Linked DNA regions of Homo sapiens: region 1 is linked to region 2. The links come from fine-mapping of genetic effects on gene expression. Tissue or cell type: lymphoblastoid cells. Region 2 holds a variant in brackets; the other region holds the start of a gene. All regions are shown on one strand. Distances are between the middles of the regions.

Evidence for each region. PIP is the estimated chance that this variant, and not a neighbour inherited with it, causes the effect.
Region 1: LCT starts here. The variant in region 2 is fine-mapped to the expression of LCT in lymphoblastoid cells (GTEx, PIP 0.94).

Annotation. Positions count from the first base shown.
Region 1 is chr2:135,833,352-135,841,797 of GRCh38, reverse strand. LCT (lactase) reads left to right here and starts at 4,614. Exons shown (of 17, transcript NM_002299.4): 1 at 4,614-5,268. The coding sequence starts at 4,629. It overlaps MCM6 (minichromosome maintenance complex component 6), which reads left to right. Exons shown (of 17, transcript NM_005915.6): 17 at 847-2,172. The coding sequence ends at 963.
Region 2 is chr2:135,790,130-135,798,575 of GRCh38, reverse strand. LCT (lactase) reads left to right here. Exons shown (of 17, transcript NM_002299.4): 13 at 438-547; 14 at 3,801-3,935; 15 at 7,695-7,918. Among named protein-coding and RNA genes, the nearest start is that of LCT-AS1, 26 kb to the left of the region's middle. RefSeq lists enhancers at 122-645, 646-1,167. The variant T/C (reference allele first, on the strand shown) is at 3,775.

The DNA.
Region 1 (8,446 bases), 43 kb before region 2:
ACCACCTGAACTAATTTGCTACAGAAAACTAGAGAGCTTATACTGTGCTGATGAGATATGATGCTTCCTATGAAGGTATGTTAACACATAGAGTGAGTGCTTGAAAGTGTCCAATCTAACTTCAGGGGTAGATTTGAAAGGGCAATTTTTTAAAAAGTGTCCAGTCCCCCTTAGTGGCTTCAGTGTTTATACTGTGGAGCCTTGCCAGACTTCTTAGGATCAAATCACAGTTTCCTGAGTTCCTTTCTATGGGCTTGGCTAGGAGCTCTTCTCATTTGTGGACAGTTTTGACTAACCTGTAATTATATCGTGGGCTTAAAATCTGTCATCAAGATTTTAAGCCAGATGGCATGTTCTACCTTTTTTTTTATTAGCTCAGAGTGAAAAATTTTTCAGATGAATTTTCATAGATTCTTCTCCTAACTCTATGAAATGGTGGTATATGAAAAAGTTCAGTGGTCATAATTAAAAATTGCTGAATGATATTAAGTATGAAACAGACTTCCAATTAATTAGAAGATTTTGCAGAGTTGTTTAACCTTAAAATTCAAGCATTACTTCCTTTTTTGAAGTTGTATTTACAAGCATTTGATGTAATATATTTAAGTATTTCTTAATTTTCCACAAGGGGTTTATGGTATGAAAAGGTCAGCATCCTACTAGGAACAGGGTTTAGCAGAGCACTGATAGTGATTTTTAAAGTGTGGTCCTTTTCCTAGGAGTTTCTAGTTGGGAAATGAAAGAAAATGTTGATAGCAAACACTCGGAAGAAGGGTCAAGTCTTGTATATCTGGACATTGGTATAATACTGCTTGAAACCTGAGGACAAATATTTGTGTTTCACAGGATCATGTTCTAATTGAGCTCACCCAGGCTGGATTGAAAGGCTCCACAGAGGGAAGTGAGAGCTATGAAGAAGATCCCTACTTGGTAGTTAACCCTAACTACTTGCTCGAAGATTGAGATAGTGAAAGTAACTGACCAGAGCTGAGGAACTGTGGCACAGCACCTCGTGGCCTGGAGCCTGGCTGGAGCTCTGCTAGGGACAGAAGTGTTTCTGGAAGTGATGCTTCCAGGATTTGTTTTCAGAAACAAGAATTGAGTTGATGGTCCTATGTGTCACATTCATCACAGGTTTCATACCAACACAGGCTTCAGCACTTCCTTTGGTGTGTTTCCTGTCCCAGTGAAGTTGGAACCAAATAATGTGTAGTCTCTATAACCAATACCTTTGTTTTCATGTGTAAGAAAAGGCCCATTACTTTTAAGGTATGTGCTGTCCTATTGAGCAAATAACTTTTTTTCAATTGCCAGCTACTGCTTTTATTCATCAAAATAAAATAACTTGTTCTGAAGTTGTCTATTGGATTTCTTTCTACTGTACCCTGATTATTACTTCCATCTACTTCTGAATGTGAGACTTTCCCTTTTTGCTTAACCTGGAGTGAAGAGGTAGAACTGTGGTATTATGGATGAGGTTTCTATGAGAAGGAGTCATTAGAGAACTCATATGAAAGCTAGAGGCCTTAGAGATGACTTTCCAAGGTTAATTCCAGTTGTTTTTTTTTTTTTTTAAGTTTATAAAAGTTTATTATACTTTTTTAAAATTACTCTTTAGTAATTTATTTTACTTCTGTGTCCTAAGGGTAATTTCTCAGGATTGTTTTCAAATTGCTTTTTTAGGGGAAATAGGTCATTTGCTATATTACAAGCAATCCCCAAATTTTATGGTCTTCCAGGAAAAGTTATTACCGTTTATGATACTAACAGTTCCTGAGACTTAGCTATGATCAGTATGTTCATGAGGTGGAGCAGTTCCTGTGTTGCAGCTTTTAACAACAGATGGCATTCATTAAATCACAAAGTATGTTAAAGGTCACAAAAGCAAAATAACTGTCTGAGGCTAAGGCCCACGTGGGACAGTCTAATACCCATGAGTACTCAACTTGCCTTGATGTCTGAGCTTTCCAGTGCAATGTGAATTTGAGCAGCCAGAAATCTATTAGTAGAAAGCAAGACAGATTAATATAGGTTAAAACAATGATTTAAATATGTTTCTCCCAATAATTATCTCTTTCCCTGGAATCAACTTGTATGAAACCTTGTCAAAATGTACTCCACAAGTATGTACAATTAAGTATTTTAAAAATAAATGGCAAACATTAAAAACAAGAGTGAATACTCAAGTAGATTTGTCATGGGATTTTTATAAGAAGACTGGTATCAGGTAATGTATCTTTAAAGACTAGGCTGCTCTGCTGACGTAGTAACCATTTTTTATTCCTTTACTTTCCTAATAGCCTTGCTTTCACTTAAGAAAAAAAAAGGCTAGGCACGGTGGCTCACGCCTGTAATCCCAGCACTTTGGGAGGCCAAGGTGAGTAGATCACCTGAGGTCAGGAGTTCGAGACAAGCCTGGCCAACGTGGAGAAAACCTGTCTCTACTAAAAGTACAAAAATTAGCCAGGCATGGTGGTGGGCACCTGTAATCCCAGCTACTCAGGAGGTTGAGGCAGGAGAATTGCTTGAACCCAAGAGGTGGAAGTTGCAGTGAGCTGAGATCATGCCACTGCCCTCCAGCTTGGGCGGCAACAACAACAACAAAAAAAGATTCCCAGGCTTCACCCTCTACAGTCTATGGAAAGTCATGGGAGTCTATTAAAAAAAAACAGACACTATAAACCAAATTAAAAGATGGGAAAATTTTTCTATCACGTTTTAATATGTGATATCCAAACTCCCATTAAGAATTTTTATATCAGTAATAAGATAAAACTCAGAAGAAAAATGCCCAATTAACAAGAAGAGCTTCACCTCTTAAATAATCAGAAAAAGAAAAGCACATAATATTTACGTCAAAGTATCAAAAATGTAAAAGTTTTATAATAGGCATTAGCAAGGCAGACGGATACAGGCACACATCTAACTCTATGTAGGATTTAACTTGGAAGACAATTTGCATTTCAATCAATCAAAAACCATTTTTTTTTTTGAGATGATCTCCCTGTGTTGCCCAGACTGGCCTCAAGCTCCTGGGCTTGAGCAGTCCTACAGTCTGAGCCTCCAAAAGTACTGGCAAAACAGGCGTGATTGACCATGCCCAGCCTGTATATAAGGATATTCATTTGCAGCATTGTTTGCAACACAAAAATGTAAAACCAACCGGTGTTTAATATGCAAGATGTTAATTTATGGTACATTCTTGCTGTGGAAAGCTATGCATCTGTTAGAGGTGGGTCTATATGTTCTGATACAGGCAGAACTCTAAGAGCTATTAAGTGAAGAAAAGGCTGAAAATACATATGGCATAATTCCATATATGTTAAATTGTTCTATATTTTAAATGTTATACACGTTTCCATTTGTATTTACGTAATAATAATGATCCCTGAGCTGTACTGTTGTATACATGCTACAAGAAAGACCCATTTAATCCCCACAGCCTATGATGAATTATCCACATTCTACAGGTGACAAAATAGAGGCACAAAGTTAAGTAATTTTTGTCAGGTGAGATTTAAACCCAGGCATTCTGACTCCTGTATAACCATTAAGATATGCAGAGAAAGAAAACTGGAAAGATACATATTGCTGAAGATACTTATTATAGGAAGAGGAGGGGGGAGGGTGAAGGAATTTGCAAGTTTTTCATAGATGTTTCCATATTGTTTGAATCTCTTACAAAATATGTTCAGCATATTTTTAAAGAGAAAATTTGGGGCAAAATACTTATTTTTGTATTATGTAAACAAATTTTAAAATAATGTGTGGCTGGGTGCGCTGGCTCACACCTGTAATCCCAACACTTTAGGAGGCTGAGGCAAGAGGATTGCTTGAGCCCAGGAGTTCAAGACCAGCCTGGGTGACATGGCAAAACTCCATCTCTACTAAAAATACAAAAAATTAGCCAGTCGTGGTGGCGCACACCTATGGTCCCACCTACCCAGGATGCTGAGATGGGAGGATCACTTGAGCCCAGGAAGTCAAGGCTGCAGGAAGCTGTGATCGCACCACTGCACTCCCACCTGGGCAACAGAGTGAGACCCGGTCACCAAAAAACAAAAAAAACAAAAAAAATTGGTAATCGTTTTCTTCAGACATTTTCCGGGTTCCTCTGCTTAACTTGTATAGGAAGTCTGAGGTTTTTGTGTTGGTCTTTACCTTTTTTTTTTTTTTTTTTTTTTAAGATGGAGTCTCATTCTGTTGCCCAGGCTGGAGTGCAGTGGCATGATCTTGGCTCCTGCAACCTCCGCCTCCTGGGTTCAAGTGATTCTCCTGCCTCAGCCTCCTGAGTAGCCGGGACTACAGGCGCATGCCACGATGCCTGGCTAATTTTTTGTATTTTTAGTAGAGATGGGGTTTCACCATGTTAGCTAGGACGGTCTCGATCTCCTGACCTCGTGATCCGCCCACCTCGGCCTCCCAAAGTGCTGGAATTACAGGTGTGAGCCACCACGCCCGGCCCTGATCTTTACATTTTTAAATATTGCATTAGTGAACCGTGTACTGATTTTGTGATCATAGATAACCCAGTTAAATATTAAGTCTTAATTATCACTTAGTATTTTACAACCTCAGTTGCAGTTATAAAGTAAGGGTTCCACATACCTCCTAACAGTTCCTAGAAAATGGAGCTGTCTTGGCATGTAGTCTTTATTGCCCTGCTAAGTTTTTCATGCTGGGGGTCAGACTGGGAGTCTGATAGAAATTTCATTTCCACCGCTGGTCCTCTAACCAATGACTTGCTGCACAACCTGAGTGGTCTCCTGGGAGACCAGAGTTCTAACTTTGTAGCAGGGGACAAAGACATGTATGTTTGTCACCAGCCACTGCCCACTTTCCTGCCAGAATACTTCAGCAGTCTCCATGCCAGTCAGATCACCCATTATAAGGTATTTCTGTCATGGGCACAGCTCCTCCCAGCAGGAAGCACCCAGAATCCAGACGAGAAAACAGTGCAGTGCTACCGGCGACTCCTCAAGGCCCTCAAGACTGCACGGCTTCAGCCCATGGTCATCCTGCACCACCAGACCCTCCCTGCCAGCACCCTCCGGAGAACCGAAGCCTTTGCTGACCTCTTCGCCGACTATGCCACATTCGCCTTCCACTCCTTCGGGGACCTAGTTGGGATCTGGTTCACCTTCAGTGACTTGGAGGAAGTGATCAAGGAGCTTCCCCACCAGGAATCAAGAGCGTCACAACTCCAGACCCTCAGTGATGCCCACAGAAAAGCCTATGAGATTTACCACGAAAGCTATGCTTTTCAGGGTGAGTACACATTGACCTGATGGTGACCCCTCGGCAACCTTCATCACACACCTTCCCCATCCTCCTTAGAGCAGATTCGACATTTCTCCCAACTCACCTTCAGCAGTCCTCTTATGTCTGTGCATAGGGAGAAATTAATATTGTAAATTGATTTCCCACTGGCGATAGGAAGGGGTAGCTAACATGGCAAAACACTCAGCATTTCCTTTGAAAAATATCTTTGAGGCTCACGCCTGTAATCCTAGCACTTTGGGAGGCCGAGGTGGGCGGATCACTTGAAGTCAGGAGTTCGAGACCAGCCTGGCCAATATGGCAAAACCCCGTCTCTACTAAAAATACCAAAATTAGCCAGGGATGGTAGCAGGCGCCTGTGATCCCAGCTACTCGGGAGGCTTAGGCAGGAGAATTGCTTGAACCCAGGAGGCAGATGTTGCAGTGAGCCGAAATCATGCCACTGTACTACAGCCTGTGCGACAGAGCAAGACACAATCTCAAAAAAAAAAAATATGTATACATATATATATATATATATATATATATATATATATATATACACACATGTATTTTTGAAATACCCCTTGCCCAGTCTTGAGTTGTGCAAGCACTGATTGTCTTTCTGTCTTCCTTTCCGTCTATGTCCTGCTACCCTGACTTGGAGGCAAAGTTTCGTGGTTTCCTGTCCTTCCCCCTCGGCTCCCCTATACTTACATGTCTTAGTTGGAGCTTACATTGCAGCTTGGGAGACAGACAAATACAAGATGAAACAATTATATATCACAGGATGAGGAGAGCACAACTGTAACTGTTCACATTCCTGCCTCCTAGGGGACTTGAAGTTCTGATCTGTAGGCCTAGGCTGAACCAGGACATTTGTGATTATAATCAATTCCCTAAGTGTATGTTAGGTACACCAATTTTGAGAATCAATTTTGGATTATATATGCTTTCTTGTTTTTATTATATACCATATACATACATATTTGTATATATAGTACCTGATATATATATATATATATATATATATATATATATATATATATATATATACTTCTATGTTCTACTTTTTCATTTTAACATAGTTTATGACTATATTCTCATTTTATTAAAAACTTGAGCCAGGCATGGTGGCTCATGCCTATAATCCCAGCACGTTAGGAGGCCAAGGCAGGGGGATTGCTTGAGGCCAGGAGTTGGAGACCAGCCTGGGCAACATAGAGAGCCACTATCTCTAAAATAATATAATAATTTACTCCAGTGCTGGAATAGTATTGCTTAAAACAAAAGAAAAACTTGAAAGCATAACTTTCAATGGTCTTTTAGGTTCCCATTGTATAAATGGAGCATAAAGTTTAAGGTATTTTCCTTATTTTTGTATGTTTATTCTAATTTTCACTAGTTACAAGTTATGTTGCAATGACATTCCTATCTATAAACTATTTCCCACCTTCTGATAAATTCTTTCTGACAGAATCTTAGAATTGAAACTACTAGGTGAAAAGATCTGCATTCTTTAAGATTTTAAAGCATGGTACTAAATTATTTTCCAGAAAAGTTGTAATCATTTATACGAACAGTTATAAAATTACTCTCTGACCCCATTCTGTCAGTTTCAAATGCTATATTTTATTACTAATTTGACAGCTGAAAACAGCTTATTTTCATGTCTTGTTAATTTGCATGTATTTGATTATAGAGACGTTAAACATTTTTTTCTTCTTCTTTTTTTTTTTTTTTTTTTTTTTGAGATGGAGTCTCACTCTTTTGTCCAGGCTGGAGTGCAGTGGTGTGATCTCGGCTCACTGCAACCTCTGCCTCCCGAGTTCAAGCAATTCTCCTGCCTCAGCCTTCCCAGTAGCTGGGATTACAGGCACGCACCACCACATCTGGCTAATTTTTGTATTTTTAGTAGAGATGGGGTTTCACCGTGTTGGCCAGGCTGGACTCAAACTTCTGATCTCAGGTGATCCGCCCGCCTCGGACTCCCAAAATGCTGGGATTACAGGCGTGAGCCACCACGCCCGGCCTTAAACAAAAAAATAAAATAAGGCCAGGCGTGGTGGTTCACGCTTGTAATCCCAGCACTTTGGGAGGCTGAGGCAGGCGGGTCACAAGGTCAGAAGATCGAGACCATCCTGGCTAACACGGTGAAACCCCATCTCTACTAAAAATACAAAAAATTAGCGAGGCGTGGTAGCACGTGTCTGTAGTCCCAGCTACTCAGGAGGCTGAGGCAGGAGAATCGCTTGAACCTGGGAGGCGGAGGTTGCAGTGAGCCGAGACTGCGCCATTGCACTCCAGCCTGGGCGACAGAGCGAGACTCTGTCTCAAAAATAAATGAAAAATAAACTAGGACATCATAGCTGCCTTATTCACAATAGCCAAAAGGTGGAAGCAACCCAGATATCCACTGATGGATGAATGGATAAACGAGACGTGGCATAGACATAAAATGGAATATTACTCCACATTTATTAAAAAGGGAAGAAATCATCACATGCTACAACATGGATGAACCTTGAGGACATTATGCTATGTGAAATAAGCCAGACACAAAAAGACAAACGCTGTATGATTCCATGTATAGGAGGAAACTAGAGCAGTCGAATTCATGGAGAGAGGAAGGAGAATGGCAGAGGCCAGGGGCTGGGGTAGGGGAGAAATGGAGAGCTCTTTAATGGGAGTAGAATTTCTGTTCAGAAAAATGAAAAAGTTCTGGAGATTGGTTGCACAACAATGTGAATATACTTAATAATACTGAACTGTGCACTTAAAAATAGTTAAGATGGCCGGGCGCGGTGGCTCACGCCTGTAATCCCAACACTTTGGGAGGCCAAGGCGGGCAGATCATGAGGTCAGGAGATCGAGACCATCCTGGCTAACCCGGTGCAACTCCGTCTCTACCAAAAATGCAAAAAATTAGCCGGGCGTGGTGGCGGGCCCCTGTAGTCCCAGCTACTCGGGAGGCTGAGGCAGGAGAATGGCGTGAACGCGGGAGGCGGAGCTTTCAGTGAGCCGAGATGGCACGACTGCACTCCAGCCTGGGCGACGGAGCGAGACTCCGTCTCAAAAAAAAAAAAAAAAAAAAAAAGAAGTTTAGGAAGGAGTTCTCTCCTTGCCAACTCTCCAACTGCTCTGCATTTCATAGTCCTGATTTTCACAAAACACTCTCTAAAGGAAC
Region 2 (8,446 bases):
CCCTCCCCAGAAAGTTCTGTTTGCTCCTTGGGCACTTTGATGAGGAAGTGCAGCCGCTCAGTGGTGAGAAAGAGAACCGGGAGCCTGGAGGCTTGTGGGTTCTCCCTTCTCCTCTGCAGGACCCATCCAAGGGCAGCCAGGAAGCATTTGTTGAGCACCAGGGCCAGTGCCCAGGTCAGTTACTGTCACCTCAAGCTACAACTATGAAGAGGTGGCCCTGTCCTCAGTGCAACAGCAACTGAGCAAGCACAGACCCAGCTGGGAGACCTGTGGACACTGAAGCTGCAACAGGCAGGAGCCACAGGGAAGAGAGCTTAACCTGGGGGTCCAGGAAAAGGAGGGAGGTTGTGAGGCCAGGCACTTCTGAGCGGGGACGATGCTGTCTCTTGCTGTGCCCACCTGTAACGCCTGGGCTGTCTCCCCCACCCTACCCGCAGTTCATGGGAGGCTGGTTTGCACATCCTATTTTCAAGAATGGAGATTACAATGAGGTGATGAAGACGCGGATCCGTGACAGGAGCTTGGCTGCAGGCCTCAACAAGTCTCGGTAAGGGCCTGGTGCCCGCAGTGGTGAGGGCATGGGCGTCGGGGTCACAGAGGCATGTCTCGGGCAAGTTACCATGACTGAGCTTCTTTGCTTGCTGGGAAGTTACATGTGATCATATATGTAAAGCTTAGCCCAGCACCTGGCACTGCTATATGCTTGACAGAGGGGTTTGCTATTATGGTTATTATATTGTGGAACAGCCAGGAAATCTGTTCCAAGGCTATCCACCTCTGAGCAACCCCACTATGCCACTCCACAGACAAATCCCAGCTCATCCTATCCTATTTCATCACCGCACGTGTGAATGTGGGTGGCAGTGGCTGACAGTCAGGCGTGTGCTTTGCATCACTTGGCCAGCAGGTGGCGATGGTCTGCACCAAAGCGTCCTTCCTTACCCGCCCGCCCCTTCTTGTCAAGGAAGGAGTAGCAACATTAGCAGCCAACGTTTACCCATCTTCTGTTGGTATCTTTATTTCTATTTAAATACGAGTAAAGTGAGGCGCAAAGATTAGGGCAAGATCACCCAGCTATTAAGAGATAGAGCTGAGATTTGCAGCCAAGCTGTCGGCCCCCAGGGCGCATGCTGGGGGCTTGAGAATCATGCAGGTGGGGTGAGAGGTGTGGTGTGAGGAAGCGCAGGAAGCGGCAGTCACTGCCCACGGGAACATGCCCACCGCTCCAAGGCTGGCGGGAATCAAGTGTGAATTCCCAACATAGTCTTTGAGTCCTGCCCCTAGACGCCCCCATATAGTCCAGCTGAGGATTAAAAATCCAGCTCCCAGGCCGGGTGCGGTGGCTCACACCTGTAATCCCAGCACTTTGGGAGGCCAAGGTGGGCGGATCACTTGAAGTCATGAGTTCAAGACCAGGCTGGCCAACATGGCGAAACCCTGTCTCTACTAAAAATACAAAAATTAGCTGGGTGCGGTGGCGGGGGCCTGTAATCCCAGCTACTTGGGAGGCTGAGGCCAGAGAATTGCTTGAGCTCGGGAGGCAGAGGTTGCAGTGAGCCGAGATCATGCCACTGCACTCCAGCCTGGACGATGGAGCAAGACTCTTTGTCTCAAAAAAAAAAAAAAAAAAAAAATCCAGCTCCCACCTCACAATGCACACCCTGGCCTAGTTAGGGTAAGTTCCCCAGAGCAGGCTGTGCCTAAAGGTCTGATCTGCGAACTGTGATCTCCAGCAAAACCGATGAGCGCCCGGCCCATCTGCACAACTTTGCCGAGCACCTACCATTTGCCCGAGCCAGGGCCAGGGGGAGGGGTCCATGGAAGGAGAGGATTCCATTCGGCTCCTCAAGCTGCTGACAGATCAGCTGGAAAGACAGTTCTCCATCCCATTCCCCAGGCTCTTCAGTACAAAGAAAACTCAGAAGATGAGATCAGGGTAGGCTGGGTAGACCCAGGAGATTTCATGGACAAGGCAGGACATCAGCTGAGCTGGGCCTTGACAGGGGATAGAATGTGGGGGATTGCAGGTCATTCTTTCCACGGGGCAGAGTTGTGAAGACAGGCCTAGAGGTAAGAATGAGTGGGGGTGCCAGAGCTGAGAGTGGGGAGACCAGCCCAGCAGCAGTGAAGGGGCTGAGGCCACATGGTGGAGGGCCTGGAAGCCAAGCACAGGGCCTTGGCTTTGGTGCCACAGGCCATTGCTGGCTTCTGAGCAGAAGCGTCAGGGACAGGAGGAGGCTGTGCTTTGGTTTTCTCCCATCATCTCAGAAACCCCAGGGAAGGAAGGTTCTTGATCCCTCAGGTTAATGGTAGCAGAAAGGTCAAGATGAAAGTGTCAGAGGCCTCAGCAGGGCATCTCTGGGCCACACCTAAACCAGAAGCCCCAGGTCTCCCTGTGGGCATGCGCATGCATTCAGGATCACCTGTACATGCTGCACACAAGTGTATTAGTCAGGTTCTACAGGAGAGGCTTTTCACTCAGAGTGCCTGGAAAATGCTCCATCTACAGGTTAAGAAGCCAAAGTTCCCAGGCTCACAAGTAATCTCAGCACTTTGGGAGGCTGAGGCAGGAGGATTGCTTGAGACCAGGAGTTCAAGACCAGCCTGGGCAATATAGTGAGACTTTGTCTTTACAAAAAATTTAAAAATTATCTAGGCATGGTGACGCACACCTATATTCCCAACTACTTGGGAGGCTGAGGTGAGAGGATTGCTTGAGCCCAGGAGACTGAGGTTGCAGTGAGCTATGATTGCACCACTGCACTCCAGCCTCAGGGGGCGTGCAGTGTCCTCAGGAGGACAGGGCGAGACCCTGTCTGGGAAAAAAAAAAGGAAGAAAGAAAACAAAGTTCAGTGAAATCGTGAGAACTGAGAAATTCAAACTCAAATACTCAATTTGCAAATTATTTCCCCTGCTACTTTGAAGATCTTGAAGCTATTATTATTATTATTATTATTATTATTATTATTAGAGTTGGAGAAAAGAGGCATGCCTAAACAAACCCCAAGAGGAGCAGAGAAACTTGGAAAGGGCAGAAAACGGAAATACAAATTACACAAGATACAGGGCCGGGTGTGGTGGCTCATGCCTGTAATCCCAACACTTTAGGAGGCTGAGGTGGGCGGATCACTTGAGGTCAGGAGTTCAAGACCAGCCTGGCCAACATGGTGAAACCCCATCTCTACCAAAAATATAAAAAATCAGCCAGGAGTTGTGGCAGGCGCTTGTAGTCCCAGCTACTTGGGAGGCTGAGGCAGGAGAATCACTTGAACCCAGGAGGCGGAGGTTGCAGTGAGCTGAGATCGCGCCACTGCACTCCAGCCTAGGTGACAGAGCCAGACTCAGCCACAAAAAAAAAAAATTATACAAGATCTAACTTTACAAACATAGGGGAAGAGTCTCAGATATGTACCTCAGGCATGCTCTTGATTTTGAAATCTGTCATAGATGCTAAATATCAGAATTTGCATATGTTGTTTGAAGGAAATTAAAAACTGTTTATGCATGTGTGTGTGTGTGTGTGTGTGTGCGCGCGCGCGCGTGGGTGCGTGTGTGTGTGGTCCTTCAGGTTTCAGAGGCTCTTGTAGAGACCTAGGGAAGCCAGGTTTATGGTCTGGCTGGAGGAGCCGCAGTGCTTCCTGCACCGCCTGAAGGACCTCTTCTCCTTCCCTGCCAGTTTCCCCTACTCACTGCCAAGTGCCTGGGGTTCGGAGAGCTCCCCCGCCCCAGCCCTATGACGTTCTCTTCTCAAAGCATGGCTCTCCCTGAAGCCC[T/C]GCCCTCAATGGCTTCTTCCACCCAGGCTGCCAGAATTTACAGAGAGTGAGAAGAGGAGGATCAACGGCACCTATGACTTTTTTGGGTTCAATCACTACACCACTGTCCTCGCCTACAACCTCAACTATGCCACTGCCATCTCTTCTTTTGATGCAGACAGGTAAGTCCACCAACAGGGAGCCCGGAGCCATCTCTGGAAAAGGCAGAAAGGTGCCCTTGGCTGTGCTCTCTGAGGCCTGCCCAGCCTCAAAACAGGGCCTCCAACGCCGAATGTGCCGGGGTTTGCAAGATGCTCGCCACCCCACAGATCCCAAGGAAATCTCCAGCAAGCAAGAGGGAGAGAAGGCCGGGGTCTCCAGGGCACCTCCCATTAGGGCACATGTGCTTGGCTTTTTGTTTTTTTATTTCATTTTTAAAATTTATTTATTTTGCGTTCTTTTTCACAGGCTGCTTAACTCTAAAAATGCTTGGTTGTTAAAAAGGATTTTCAAGAAAAAAATTGTTTAGGTTTTATCAAAATTCGCTTTAATATTAATAAATATTACAATAATACAAGAGTAAAATTTTATTTTCTCTTTTTAAACAATGCTTTTATGAAGTAGAGATAGTAAAAGATTTTGGTTCACCTTTTAAGTAACAGTTTTTATTTTATTTATTTTTTTTGAGACAGAGTCTCGCTCTGTCACCAGGCTGGAGTGCAGTGGCACAATCTTGGCTCACTGCAACCTCCACCACCCGGGTTCCAGTGATTCCCCTGCCTCAGCCTCCAAGTAGCTGGGATTACAGGCGCGTACCTCCACGCCTGGCTAATTTTTTTTTTTTTTTTTTTGTATTTTAGCAGAGACGGGGTTTCATCATGTTGGCCAGAATGGTCTCGGCTAATTTTGTGTTTTTAGTAGAGACAGGGTTTCTCCATGTTGGTCAGGCTGGTCTCTATCTCCTGACCTCAGATGATCCCCTTGCCTTGGCCTCCCAAAGTGCTGGGATTACAGGTGTGAGCCACTGCGCCCAGCCGATTGTCTTTTTCTTTATGATATCTATTTATCTAGAGACTTTTTCATCCATATCCTGTATTGTTTTTTAAATTTCTCTAAGTTAATTTTCACCTTTCTCTAGTACCTCCTTGAGTAGTTTAATAATCAACCTTCTGAATTCTTTATCTGGCAATTCAGAGATTTCTTCTTGGTTTGGATCCATAGCTGGAGAGTTAGTGCGACCTTTTGGGGGTCTTATAGAACCTTGTTTTGTCATATTACCAGAATTAACATTTCTGGTTCCTTCTCATTCAGGTAGACTGTTTCAGTGGAAAGATCTAGAACTCAAGGGCTGCCCCTCAGATCCTTTTGTCCCACAGGGTGATCCCTTGATGTGGTGCTCACCCCCTTTCCCTAAGGATGGGGCTTCCTGAGAGCCAGACTGCAGTGATTGCCATTGCCCTTCTGGGTCTATCCACCCAGCAGAATTACTGGGATCTGAACTGGTGCTGAGGAATGTCTGCAAAGAGTCCTGTGATGTGATCTGTCTTCAGGTCTCCCAGCCATGGATACCAGCACCTGCTCCAGTGCAGGTGGCAGGGGACTTAAGTGGATTCTGTGAGGGTCCTTGGTTGTAGTTTTCTTTCGTGCACTGGTTTTCTCAAACGCTGGTTATGCGAGCAGTGAAGTTGTCATGTGGACAGACTCAGGACCTCTGGTTAGCCAGGATGTTGCAGGCAGTGGAATTAGTTGTTGTTTTCTCTTTCTTTGGAGCAGGGTTCTTCTGTTATGAGTTGCTATAATGGCGTGAGTTGGTTGGTCTCCAGCCAGGAGGTGGCACTTTCAAGAGAGGAGGTGGCACTTTTGAGGTGCTTTCCCCTTCCACTGCCACCAGCTGCGGTAGTAGAAGGGGGATTACAAGGTTGCCCTACGTTGGCCAGGGTATTTGGGTTTCTCAGGTTATGGGCGGGGCCATAGAGCTCCCAAGAGTTTATGTCTTTTGTCTTCAGCTACCAGCAAAGGTAGAGAAAGACCATCAGGTTGGGGCAGCATTAGGCATATCTGAGCTCAGACTCTCCTCGGGTGAGGCTTGCTGTGGCCACTGTGGGGGAATAGGGGGCTGGTTCTCAGGCCAGTGGAGTTCTGTTCCCAGGGGTATTATGGCTTCCTCTGCTGTGTCATACAGGTTGCTAGGGAAGTTGGGAAAGCTGGCAGTCACAAGCCTCACCTAGCTCCCATGCAGCCAGCAAGGCCAGTCTCACTCCTGCTGTGCCCTGCCAACAGTGCGCAGGGCAGAGATCTCACCCCAGGCCACAAGCCTTCTCTCTGAGAAAGCAAACAGGGCTTTCAGGCCTTGCCCCTCCCCACCTGCCCACACTGTTGGCTGTGGCTTCTGTGCTTTTATCTGCACTTCTTGTTTGCCCCCAAGATTCTGCTCAGGAAAATTCATGCTTCTAGTTGAAATTAATAAGTTGAGCTAGAAGCTTCCTTAATCCTGCCCCTCCCTAATTCCACTGGCTTCCTTCTACAAGGACCCCTGTAGGATAAAGTCAGGAATGGCTTCCCTGGGCTCAAGCTGGGGACAGGGAGTGGCTACAGGGCTCTTCCCACTGCTTCTTCTACTTTTACATTTCACTTGGCTCCCTAAATCCACTTGCGCTCTAGGTAAGGTTAAATCCTTCTCCTATGATCTGGATGTTCAGGTCCCCAGAGAGGATGTGTGTTCAGAGGCAGACTTTCCCCTTCTCACACTTTGGGAACTCACAGTTTTGCAGCTGTCTCATGGAGTTTGCAGTAGCATTCTGCTTCTTTCAAAGGTCTGTGAATTCTTTTGGTTTTTCTGGTATGTTCCAGCAGTAGTTCTTGGAGCAACAGTTAACAATGTGAGTCTCCACACACTGTTCTGTCCATCCAAGTGGGAGCTGTACCTAAGTCCTGTCTCTTATCTGCCATTTTCAGAAAATCTCATTTTGTTCCTTTTCCATCAAGCATCTTTCCACACCAGTAGCTCTGACTGTGTCCAGGTTCTTTCTTTGAAAACCAGCCCCTCCACTCCCACTGTATCCTGAAACCCCCAGAGTCAGGCTCACCAAGGGGGCTGAGGAGACTCCAGAACACCCCTCTACTCCTTCTGATTCTCCCTCCCTCTTATGAGCCCTGGGGCTGTCCCTGGGAAGACCTCCACTAGTGCTTATGAAATGGCCCACATTCAATTCAGCTGAGTCAGATAAATCCAGGTGCTGATAAAACCAACATTTTTTTTTTCCCTGAAAGATCTGAGTGTAGGAAGTGTCTAAATTCTTGGTTCTTATTTGACATATGTGACTACAGGTGATCAGGCTTCTGTGGCCTCCCCCAGCAGGCACCCCTGTGGCAGGAGCTGTCCACCTCCTCGTCCATCACTGAAGAGAGAGGCCAGGCTCTTGGACACTTGAAGGAGGTGCCAGCCTGTCTGCTGCCTGTCTTCACACAAAGCAGGGCCCCTACAAATATTCGTGCCTGTGGCCTCACCCGTGGTCTGCAAGTGGCATTGACTAGACATGGGTGACTTGGGGGAGCCCATTCTCTGAAGACACAGCACTGGCGTCCATTGGAAGCCTGGAGCTGGGGACCCATAGCCTTTCATAGCTGGTGTAAGGAGCCATCTATTCAGAGTAGTGGAGGGCTGGGCTCCATGAGCAAGACCATTCTCTGCACAGGCAGAGAAATTGAAGGACGGAGAGCTGAGTGGCTTGTCCAATGCTATACAAGCACAGAGTGCAGGCAGCTAGAACCAGCGAAAGGAGGAGAATTTGAGGCAATTTGATTCTTCTGGGTTTAGTATGATTCTTAAGGCTAGACAAAACCTAAGGCTTTTCCTGGTCTAAGTCCTGTTTTGTGTTTCGTGTAAAGGGCCTCTTGAGATTTACAAAACAAGACCTCATCTTTAGTTTTTGAACTTGTAGAGGAGTTGCTTCCATCGCAGATCGCTCGTGGCCAGACTCTGGCTCCTTCTGGCTGAAGATGACGCCTTTTGGCTTCAGGAGGATCCTGAACTGGTTAAAGGAGGAATACAATGACCCTCCAATTTATGTCACAGAGAATGGAGTGTCCCAGCGGGAAGAAACAGACCTCAATGACACTGCAAGGATCTACTACCTTCGGACTTACATCAATGAGGCCCTCAAAGGTACGACGGGCCCGCCCTTCCCCAGCGTGCACCTTCCCCTGTTGGAAACATCTGCTATTTGCAGGAGTGTGATACAGCGTCCTTGGGCCACAGTAAGAAGAGAACGATAAGCCTTCTTGCTCCTGTGGGGGTTAAGCTTTGCTTTAGGGCCGCACTCTGAGTTTTTTTCCTTCCTATGTCTAAGCTCAGCAAGCAAGCCCAGTGGCCTGATGCCACCAAACCCTAGTTCCTGGCCTGAGTCACTTGCTCCCCTTGATCCTCCCTGATGTCGGAACAGCAGTGCCCTCCTGAGAATGGTCTGGGTAGGGCCCAGGAGGAGTAGGCTGTGTGGTTGCCTGTAGGGTCTCTTAGTCTCCGAGCAAAAGTTTGAGGCTCTTGGCTCAGCCCTAACAACTTGAGATGGGACCATGAGGATAAGAGAATGGAACAAATGCTGAGTAAAAGAGCAAGCAATGCACCAGCAAAGGAAATGATTAGAAAAATCCTACCCAGCTGAAATATATTCTATCTAAGGGCTATTTTCTACAG